2 separate regions of the Homo sapiens genome follow, and region 1 is linked to region 2. A link means that fine-mapping ties the variant in region 2 to the expression of a gene that starts in the linked region. Tissue or cell type: prefrontal cortex. Region 2 holds a variant in brackets; the other region holds the start of a gene. All regions are shown on one strand. Distances are from middle to middle.

Region 1 (5,097 bases), 59 kb before region 2:
GCAATCTCTACCAAAGCATCCTATGCTTCCGTATCCTTTCTAGATCCCTCCCAGTTCTCCATTCCCTGTTAGACAAGTTGTGCAAATATGGTAGCTCTACCACAGCATGGCTTCCACCACTACTCCAGGAACACTGCCCTCATCATGTTCACCAATTGCCTTCATGTTGCCAGAGCCAACAGGTCCCAGTCCTCATCTTACCTGATCTCTAAGCAGTGTCTAACACAGCTGACAACTGCTTTCTGGAAACATTTTCTCAGTCTCTGGGATACTCCTGATTCTCCTTCTGCCTCCCCAGTCTCTTTTTCAGTCTTCTTGCCTGCTTTGGTTCCCCTGGGTCCCTCCTGAACTCTCTCCTCTTCTGCATCTACTCCCTCACCCTGTGTGTCCTTCTCAGATCCCGTGGCCTTGAGCATCTTTATGCTGATGTATCCCAAAGCCCCTCTCCCGCCCTGGCCTCTCTTCTGAGTTCCTAGTGATGAGATAACCCCGCTGGTTCTCTAACAGGCATCTGAAGCTCCATGTGGCTTGAACAGAATTCCTGATGTAACTCCCTGAGATGTGGTTCATGCTTTTTGATCCAATAAATGAAGCACTATCCACCCACTTACCCCAGCCAGAAACTTGAGTTATCTTTGGTTTCTCCATTTCCTGCCCCCATGTCCTTCCTATCAATGTGTCCTCTTAAGTCCAAAATAGCATCTCTCAACTACTCATCTTAGCATGACCACCACTTTGGTTCAAACCACCATCATCTTTGGCCTGGATTGTGGCAAGCCTAATTGGCTCCCTGCTTTTATTTTTGCCTGACACCCACACACAGCCTTAAATCAGAACATGTTAGTCTTCTGCATAAAACCCTTCCAAGGCTCAACAAAGTCTCCATTCTTTGACACAGCCCACAGGCCCTGCATGCTTTGGCCCCCACCCACCTTCTCACTCCATCCTGGGCCTCTTCCCCTAGGCTTAAAACTTCAGCCACACTGATTTTCTTTCAGTTCCCTGACCCATCCAGAACTTACCCTGAAAAGGCACCTACTGCTCTCAGCGAGGAATGTCTCTGCCCAACTTTTCCCAAGGCTAACTCCTTACTCTTTTGACTTCAATTTCAGCATCGCCTCCTCACTTTCCCTGACTGCTTCATCTAAGGTAGCTTTTATTCTCTATTCTAGCCCCTTGTTTTTGTCCCAGCCTTTACTTCAACTTGTGATTATGTATTTGTCTTCTCCACTAAAAATTAACTTTATTGGGCAAAAGGCCTCAGCTGTCTTGTTCACTGAAGTATCCCACCATGCACACAGGGCCTGGCATATTATCAGGCACTCAGACAAACACTCACTATCTGCTGAATGAATGGACAGGTTCCCAGGGAGTTTCCAGAGCTGCCTGGGCTGTCACAGACAGGTTGCATCCCTCTTAATTAAACAAACAAATAAAATTAGCCAGGCACCGTGGCTCATGCGTGTAATTCCAGCACTCTGGGAGGCAGAGGCGGAAGGATTGCTTAAGCCCAGGAATTTAAGACCATCACTGGCAACACAGCAAGATCTCGTCTCTACAAAAAAAAAAAAAAAAAAATTAGCTAGGTGTGGTGGCCTGCACCTGTGGTCCCAGCTACTTGGGGAAGCTGAGGCGGGAGGTCGAGGCTGCAGTGAGCCATGGTCATGCCACTGCACTCCAGCCTGGGTGACAAAGCGATACCTTAGCTCAAAAAACAACCCAAACAAACCTGGGAATGGACTGAACAGTCTCCATTTCAAGATTTCCTCCTTCCATTGGAATTAACCTGTTGGTTGCTTGTACTGGCATGTGGCAACCAGTCTTAGCCCAGTTTTAATAGATCCCTGTTTGGTGTTACTCAACAGAGAAGACCACTCGGCCCTCAGCCACCGAATAAGTTTAAGAAACAGAGGTGTGGCATGCTTCATTCTACAGGTAGGGAGGCTGAGGCTGGGGAGCCGCCCCTGGCTATCCCTGGAAACCCCTCTACCCCACAGGAATCGTCCCAGCCATCTCTTTAGCGTAAAGGTGAGGAACAAATCTCAGCCACGATCCAAAGAGGGGCGCCACCCCTGGCTGTCCCTGGAAACCCCCCTACACCACAAGAATCGTCCCAGCCACCTCTTTAGCGTAAAGGTTAGGAAGAAATCTCAGCCACGATCCAAAGAAAGCTTGGTATTTTTAGCACCAAGGCCAGAAGGAGCGTGTCCTTACTCCTTGGTTTACAAAGAAATAAAAACCTTTTCCCCATCCTTCTTTTGATTGAAGACTACCCCCGCCCCCAGGCTCCAAAGCCGGGCAGGAACGCCTCTTATCTCCACCACAGCCATTTTCCTAATCCTTCGCCCGCTCTCCACGGTCATCCCGTGTATCCCTCGAGACGCCGCCTCCCACAGCTCGTGCTTCTCCCAGGTTCGGCTCCGACAAGGCCAGAGCGGCGTCTGCGCAGCGCAACGGCTCAGAGCGCTCCCGGCGGCTACAAGTGCCCGGCCCCGGGCCAGGCCCGGCCTGCGCCGCGCACCCACTGGGAGGGCGCGGACCGGGGCCGCCCCAAGCCTCCGGCACCGCCCAGAGCGGGACAAAGGGGCGGGCCGGCGACCCGGCCTCGCGGTCCCCGGTGCCGCGCGGGCCGGGAGGCGGGGTGCGGTGGGGGAGGGGCGAGGCGGCTGGGGGAGGGGCGGGGCCAGGGCGGGCCCAGGCGCCCGGGGCCGCACCGGGCGGCGCAGGGAAGCGGCGCCCCTTCCTCGGCAGACGGCAGGCGCCGCGCCTCCGGCCCCGCCCCTCCGCGCCCCTCCGCGCCCCGCCCCCGCCGCTCGGACGGCCCGAGTCGCGCCCTCCCGCCCCGCGCCGCGGAACTTGCTCTAACTTCCTCGGCCGAGCCGGGCCGCGCCGCCGCTGCCGCCGCCGCGCGCGGGTGAGTAGAGCGCGGAGACCTGGCTGGGGCGTCGGGCCCTGCCCCTTTCTTTGTCTGAGGCCGACTTCCCCGAGCGTTCTCCGGGGGCGAGGGCTGCTCCTTAGGTCCCTGTTTGGCCCCTCAGCCTCCCTCCCCGCCTGCCCAGGAGCGGCCCCGCGGGCGGCGCTGGCTTTGTCTGCCAGGATTGCTCGCTAGAGGTTGGAGGCCTCCGCCGGGACCCCGCTGAGCCGAACTCCGGCGCCGCGCGGACGAGAGCCGCGGCGGGCCCGGGGCCGGCACTCCTGGTTCGGTAGCCCTCGCCCCATCAGCGCGCCCCGGCGAGTGCGCGCCCGTGCCGGGCGGGGTGAGGGCGACGGGAGCCTGGACGGCCGCTGCTGCTCGGGGCTCTGCTTCTCGTCCCCAGCAGCGAGCTCGGGGATGGGCCACCCTTTCGGCTCAGTCACCCACCCTCGGCTCCCAGGAGATCGGGTCCGGGGTGGGGGTGGGCGTAGGCCGGGGCGGGCCGCCCCTTCCTCCTGCCCCGCCGTGGTTGTGCTCAGTCTCCCACGCCGCCGTGGGTCCCACTCTGCCCGGCTTGGGTTTGGGACGGCCGGAGTTTGAGTAGGCGGTGACCCAGCTTCTCCGCGTTAGTCGTGTGGGGTTGTGTTTGGGAGCAAAGCCTGACCCCTGACCTAGCCGGAGTTCTGGTAGAGTGAGGTTTGTGGCTGCGGACTGTGCTTGTCCCGGGCCGCTGCTGCTTCTCCTCCACCCCCAGGGGTGGGGTGCGGGTGGGTAGGAAGTGCCTGTGTGAGGGTGTGTGGAGGGACTTTGGCCCTGGGACCGCAGGAGCACTTGTCTTGGGGACTTAAAGTTGATCTCCGGCGAGAAACAGTCCGTGCTAGGGGGAGTCGGGGGAAGTCGTGGGCCCGGGTACTGGCCTGGGGCTGGGCGCAGAGCGGTGGTGAGTGCGGCGGTGTCACACACTCGTTGGCTGTGCTGGCGCTGCTATCCGGGAGGTCAGGCGGTGCTGGGCGGCTGTGCAGAGCATTGTATTGGAGCCTCTGCAGGTGTGCTCTTGGCAGTGGTCTGCTCTCCAGGGGATCTTCCTCCCTTCCGAGAGGGAGTTGCTCTTGGGCTAGTGAGAGAGTGGCCTGCCAAATCCTCAAAAGTAGCCTTCCCCTTGCCCCTTGACCTTGAAGTCCAGAAGCAGTTAGTGCCTGCTGAGTGCTCCGGCCACCCTTCTCTATTTGTGAAGGGAAACCTGGGGACAGGCCATCGGAGCACCCCTATGTCCTTGCCACATTTCAGCTAGCCGAGTGGTTGGTGGGGGCGGCCGTCTTTCCAGGGATCTTCCTGGGCCCTGGCACCCCCAGAATGAAGCCCAGACTCCACCATAATGGCCCTGTATGCCCTTCTATCCCCTTAGCTGCTGGTGTGATCATAGCCTCAAATTGCTGGGCTCAAGTGATCCTCCCACCTCAGCCTCCCAAAGCACAGGGATTACAGGTGTGAGCCACCACGCGCAGTCTGATCCCACTCCGATCCCTAACGTTATAGTGACAGGCCCTGGAAACCCAGGGCCACCAGATGTATTTTCCCTTTCCTTCTCATTGTGTTGCACCCCAACTTCAGTTGGAGACTCTGGATATATCCATCCCCACATCTCTGAACTCCACTGCTTGGGCCACCTAATGTCATCCTCAGTTTAGTTAACAAAGCATGGTTGAGATTTCTGTGGGGTGCGAGGCATTGTTGCAGGCACTATTCCAAGTCTGGAAAGTCCCTCACCAGCTATGAACTTGGTGTGGTCTTAGAACCCAGGCTGGACATGGCATAGGTGCTCAGTAGTGTTTATTGATCTGAGCTTGATCTCAGCGTAGCAGGATCATTTAGGGAGACGGGGTTGTGGGGGGGGTCTGAGCCCATGGGTGCTTCTGAAGGTTTGTGGCTGCCCCAGGAAGAAAGGGCATGGAGCTGCAGAATGGTTGGCTGCCCAGGGAATTGTCCCCTTCACCAGCTGGGCAGCTGTGCTAGTCTCTGAGGACTGGTGAAGGTCCTTCTCATGTAGGAAGTGGCAGTATGAAGTGGGAGAGGAGATGGCTCTGCCCTGAAGGTTGTGGCGGCAGTGAAGTGAAGTTCCCATGGAGGCCGGGGAGCAGGAAAGCCCTGGGTTCTGGAACTATTTCCTGAGGCCTCACTCTATG
Region 2 (5,097 bases):
GCTTGCCTGGTCTCAGCATGCTAGGTTGCGGTTCATCCCTGCATTGCCTTAAAAACATAGTTTTCTGCATTGACTTCTTTTTCTTTTAAAAATAAAACTTCTGGCCGGGCGCGGTGACTCACGCCTGTAATCCCAGCACTTTGGGAGGCTGAGGCGGGTGGATCACAAGGTCAGGAGATCGAGACCATCCTGGCTAACATGGTGAAACCCCATCTCTACTAAAAATACAAAAAATTAGTGGGGTGTGGCGGTGGGCACCTGTAGTCCCAGCTACTCGGGAGGCTGAGGCAGGAGAATGGTGTGAACCCGGGAGGCGGAACTGGCAGTGAGCCGAGATCACGCCACTGCAGTCCAGCCTGGTCAACAGAGCAAGACTCCGTCTCAAAAAAAAGATAAAATAAATAAATTAAAACAAAACAAAACAAAACTTCCCAGGGGAGGGATTCAGTAAATTACAGAGCTTCCTTGGAGTGAAATTTCAGGTAATCACTAAAGCAAGTGGAACCGTGGAGGTGTGGGGGAGACAATTTTACCTGAGAAGTAAGCAAAACAAAATAACCAACCAGAAATCACTGTTGTCATTTGTTGTGATTATTGCCATAACCATGTCAGCTGTAAGGGCAAATGCAAAGAAGTTTTTTAGGGGAAAAGACACTGTCAACTTCACAATGATGCTTTCAGTGTTTGGATTTTACACACTTTTTAGTCAAATAAGGATTTTCTTTGTAGCCACACCAGATGCGAGGAAGGGGAGGGCAGAGGCCCCAGGTGTGGGGCAGAGCTTTGATTGTGTTACCTTTCACCTTCATCGGACCTCTTTTCCTCAGGAGCAGACACTTAGCAGCTGTTTTTTGTAAAGGGGTGAAAAGGGGAATTCACTTGCAAGTTTCTCAGGGAGGAAGAACACTGCACACTAGGAAGTGTTCTCTTGTGGCAAGTAGAGGACCACACCAAGGTGCCGAGGGGGCCACAAAGGAGAGGACGCCACTCTCCTGTCTGAGGAGGCTGGAAGGAGGCGTCTCCTTTGAGGAGGCTGGGAAGAAGAGCAAGCTCCCTGCTAAGGAGGGCCAGGGCTGGGTATGTTGTGCCTGGCAGTGGGGCCAGAGGGCTCCACTGAGCCAGCCATGTGGGTTGGACAGAGGAGGCACCGTGGCCCGGAGATACCTTCACTGCCATTTCCTTTTTGTTATTATTTTCTTTAACACATCAAAAGGGCAGGTCCTCTCTCTCTCTCTCTCTCTCTCTCTCTCTCTCTCTCTCTCTCTCTCTCTCTCTCTCTCTCCCCTTTTTTCTTTCTCTCCTTTTCTCTTTCTCTCTCTCTTTCCTTTCTTTCTTTCTGATTGGGGGTGGGGGTCTTGCTGTGTTGCCCAGACTTGTTTCCAACTCCTGGGCTCAAACCATCTTCCCACCTCAACCTCCCGAGTCACTGAGGTTACAGGCCTGAGCTACTACGCCTAGCTGTTTTCTTCTTAAAGGGCTGCCTGGGTTGCCAGCTTAGCATCTCTGCACATGGGAGGTAGGGGGCGGGCCTTGATTTCTCTGCATGGTAGATGCCGGCAGACTTAGCCTGGCATCACTATGAATGATGCCCTATGCTGGGCAGCCATGGCCCTGTCTTGGAGCCCCTAACAGTTCTGGCTTTTGTGGTTGCAGAACCAGTGCTGTGGCGCATATGGCCCTGAAGACTGGGACCTCAACGTCTACTTCAATTGCAGCGGTGCCAGCTACAGCCGAGAGAAGTGCGGGGTCCCCTTCTCCTGCTGCGTGCCAGATCCTGCGGTGAGTTGGCTTGTGCTGGGGCACAGGGAGCCCGCCCTTCCTGAAGCCCAGAAGCTTTCCTGACTCCTCCAGTGCTCTAGGATACTTCTCTGTCATGGAGGTCTGAGGAGCAGGTGTGCTTTCTCCACACCCTCCTCAAGGCTGCCTCAGCTCTGAAATCCGATATGTGTACATTCTAGGAACACTGCTTGCATGACCCACCCTGGCCTTGGTGTTCTGGGTGAGGCAGGAGAAAAACAGTATTATTTCTACCTGGAGGGCTGTCACTTGCAGCTGGCCAAGAGCTATGAGTGAAATAAGGCCCGCTTATCCCTCTTCCCTGTCCTTTTTCTGGAGCAGATTCCTAGAACTCAACAGTGCACGGGGGCTGTGGGTACACATCATTAACTGGGGAACAGTAGTGGAGAATTATTTTCTTTCTTTTTCTCTTTCTTTTATTTTTGAGACAGGGTCTTGCTGTGTCGCCCAGGCTGGAGTGTAGTGGCATGATCTTGGCTCACTGGAACCTCTGTCTCCTGGGTTCAAGCGATTCTCCTGCCTCAGCCTCCTGAGTAGCTGGGATTACAGGTGCACGCCACCACACCCGGCTAATTATTTTCTG[TTTGTTGTTGTTG/T]TTGTTGTTGTTGTTGTTTGGTTTTATTTTAGAGACAGTGTCTCACTCTGTCACTCAGGCTGGAGTGCAGTGGTGCGATCTCAGCTCACTGTACAACCATTGCTTCCCCGGGCTCAAGCAATTCTCCAGCCTCAACCTCCCAAGTAGCTGGGACCACAGGCTTGAGCACCACACCTGGCTAATTTTTGTATTTTTTGTAGAGATGGGGTTTCACCATGTTGCCCCGGCTGGTCTTAAACTCCTGGGCTCAAAGCGATCTGCCCATCTTAGCCTCCCAAAGTGCTGGGATTACAGGTGTGGGCCGCTGTGCCTGTCCTGTCCTTTCTTTACCTATTGGCATTCCCAATCCAAGGCCAACGTCCTTGGGTTCCAGAAGCTGGGTTCTTGGGGTGAACTGTGAAGGAGCTCTGAATTTTGCCTGAACTGAGCCTGAGTAGAACTGGGCCAGTTGCCAGCTCTCGGTGCAGTTATGCAAAGCCTGGTCCTGGGTTACAGGCTTTGAGAAGGCAGAGCATCACCACTATTATATGGGCAAGTTCTGCAGCCCAGGAGAGGCTCAGATTTGCTGAAGCTGCACAGCTCTTCTGAGGTCTCCACTGCGACTGTGAAATGTACCAGTCTTGTAAGTGTTGCTTTTAGCACATATAGTTCTTACCTCCAAGTATAGGTCTTACCTCCTAGCAAACTGTGGCCCCCAGGCCAAATCTGGCTTGCTATTTTTCCATGACCTGTGAGTTAAGAATGCATTCAGATGTTTTTAAATGGTTGGAAATAAATCAAAAGAAGAATAATATTTTGTGGTACGTGAAAATTATATGAAATTCAAATTTCAGTGTCCATAAAGTTTTCTTGAAATACAGCCATTCCTGTTTGTTTACAGATTGTCAGTGCCGGCTCTCATGCAACAAAAGCGGAATTGAGTCTGTGTCTGAAGTACTCACTCTCTAGCCCTTCACAGAGAAAGTTTGCCACCCTGTCCTGGTCTGAAGGATTAGTTGGTGGCATGATTGAAGGACATGAGCTGTAATGGAATTTGCACAAATGTTTGCTAGTGTTTGGTTGTGACTTTACTAGAGCCTCTTAGCACCAGCTTCTTGAGACGCCAGAAGCAACTAATTTTTCTGCTTTTCTTGCAGCAAAAAGTTGTGAACACACAGTGTGGATATGATGTCAGGATTCAGGTGAGAACTCCCATGTATACAACTTGAAGAGTTCTTTAGGTTTTATTCCCTGTGGTTCAACATTCTGATTTAGCACGAGTGCAAATTGAAGTGGGAAAACTCAGGGCAGTGAAGCTCTTGATGCCACCTAAGCTGAGCATAGGCACAGGGTCACATACACTGCTTCCTGAGCTGGCGGCAGGACTCCTGGGAGCAGTAATGGTGATTCTAAGCCTTGTGAGCTGCAGTCCCAACATCTAGGAGTTGCTGCATTTAAAGAGGTGGGATGGAAGTTTTGAGGGACAAAGACTGCATTTTTAGGAGGCTCCTTGGCATCCCAGAAGACGTCTCTCGTTAAGGGGACAGCTGCAGGAGTGTAGGTGCCTTGTTCTGGCCTCCGTGTGGAGGCAGTAGTGACAAAGAGGGAGGCAGGCCTGGGGCAGGGGCGAGGCTCTGTCCTCCAGGACTTCCTTTAGGCTGTAGGGAGTGTGCTCTTAGATGCAAAGAGAAGGAAGACCCCACCCCACTCCAGTCCTTGTTCTAGTGGTCTTTGGTGATATGAATGACTGCTGTTCTAAAAGGGAGGAGTCTCGAGGAATCTTCAGAGACCCCACCTGTTAGCCGTGGATATGAGGGATGTGTCCCTACAGCTTGGGGAACTGTCCTCCTTTAGGGACCTGCATTTCACAGGGAGAAAGTGCTGTAAACTGAATGTGTGTGTCTCTCCAAAATTCACATGTTGGAACTTAAACTCCAATGTGATGGTATTTAAGAGGTGGGGTCTTGGGGAGGGGATTGGGTCATGAGGGCAGAGTCCTTATGAGTGGGATGAGTGTCCTTATGTAAGAGGCCCAGAGAGCTTATTTGTCACTCCACTGTGTGAAGACACAGTGAGAGGGTGCCATCCATGAACCAGAAAGTGGGCCCTCATCCGACACTGAATTTGCCAGTGTCCTGATCTTGAACTTCCCGGCCTCCAGGACTGTGAGAAATAAATTTCTGTTGTTTATAAGCCACCTAATCTATAGTATTTTATTCTAGTTGCCTGAATGGACTAAGATAAGAACCTATATCAACATCAGCTTCCCTAATTATGATTTTTTTTGCCACTTATATTAATTTGCTAAGGCTGCTGTCACAACATACCACAGACAGAAATTTAAGCCACAGCAGGCATTTATTTTCTCACAGTTTGGAGGCTAGAAGTCCAAGATCAAGGTGCTGGCGAGGTGAGGTGGGTGCCTTCAGAGGGCTGTGATGGAAGGGTCTGTTCCAGGCCTCTCTCCTGGCTGCAGGTGGCTGTCCTCTCCCTGTGTCCTCACGTGGGCTCCCCTCTGTGCATGTCTGTGTCCTGATCTCCTCCTCTTAGCAGGATGCTCTTCATATTGGATTAGGGGGCACCCTGATGGCCTCATTTTAGCATAATTACCTCTGTAAAGAGCCTGTCTACAAATACAGTCACCTTCTGAAGTCCTGGGGGTTAGGACTTCAGTGTATGGATTTTGAGGACACAATTTAGCTCCTAACACCTCTAAAATTAGGGGC

Direction of the effects. Alleles are on the strand shown, and positions count from the first base shown. SD is a standard deviation of normalised expression in the study named.
For the expression in prefrontal cortex of the gene that starts at base 2,853 in region 1, T is the high allele of the variant in region 2 and TTTGTTGTTGTTG is the other (moderate effect, 0.45 SD a copy in CommonMind).

The links. PIP is the estimated chance that this variant, and not a neighbour inherited with it, causes the effect.
Region 1: it holds the start of TSPAN14, and the variant in region 2 is fine-mapped to the expression of TSPAN14 in prefrontal cortex (CommonMind, PIP 0.95).

The regions. Positions count from the first base shown.
Region 1 is chr10:80,451,458-80,456,554 of GRCh38, forward strand. TSPAN14 (tetraspanin 14) reads left to right here and starts at 2,853. Exons shown (of 9, transcript NM_030927.4): 1 at 2,853-2,914. RefSeq lists enhancers at 2,209-2,418, 3,162-3,679, 3,629-3,888, 3,919-3,968 and a silencer at 2,449-3,498.
Region 2 is chr10:80,510,491-80,515,587 of GRCh38, forward strand. TSPAN14 (tetraspanin 14) reads left to right here. Exons shown (of 9, transcript NM_030927.4): 6 at 1,654-1,779; 7 at 3,529-3,573. Among named protein-coding and RNA genes, the nearest start is that of TSPAN14-AS1, 23 kb to the right of the region's middle. The variant TTTGTTGTTGTTG/T (reference allele first, on the strand shown) is at 2,381.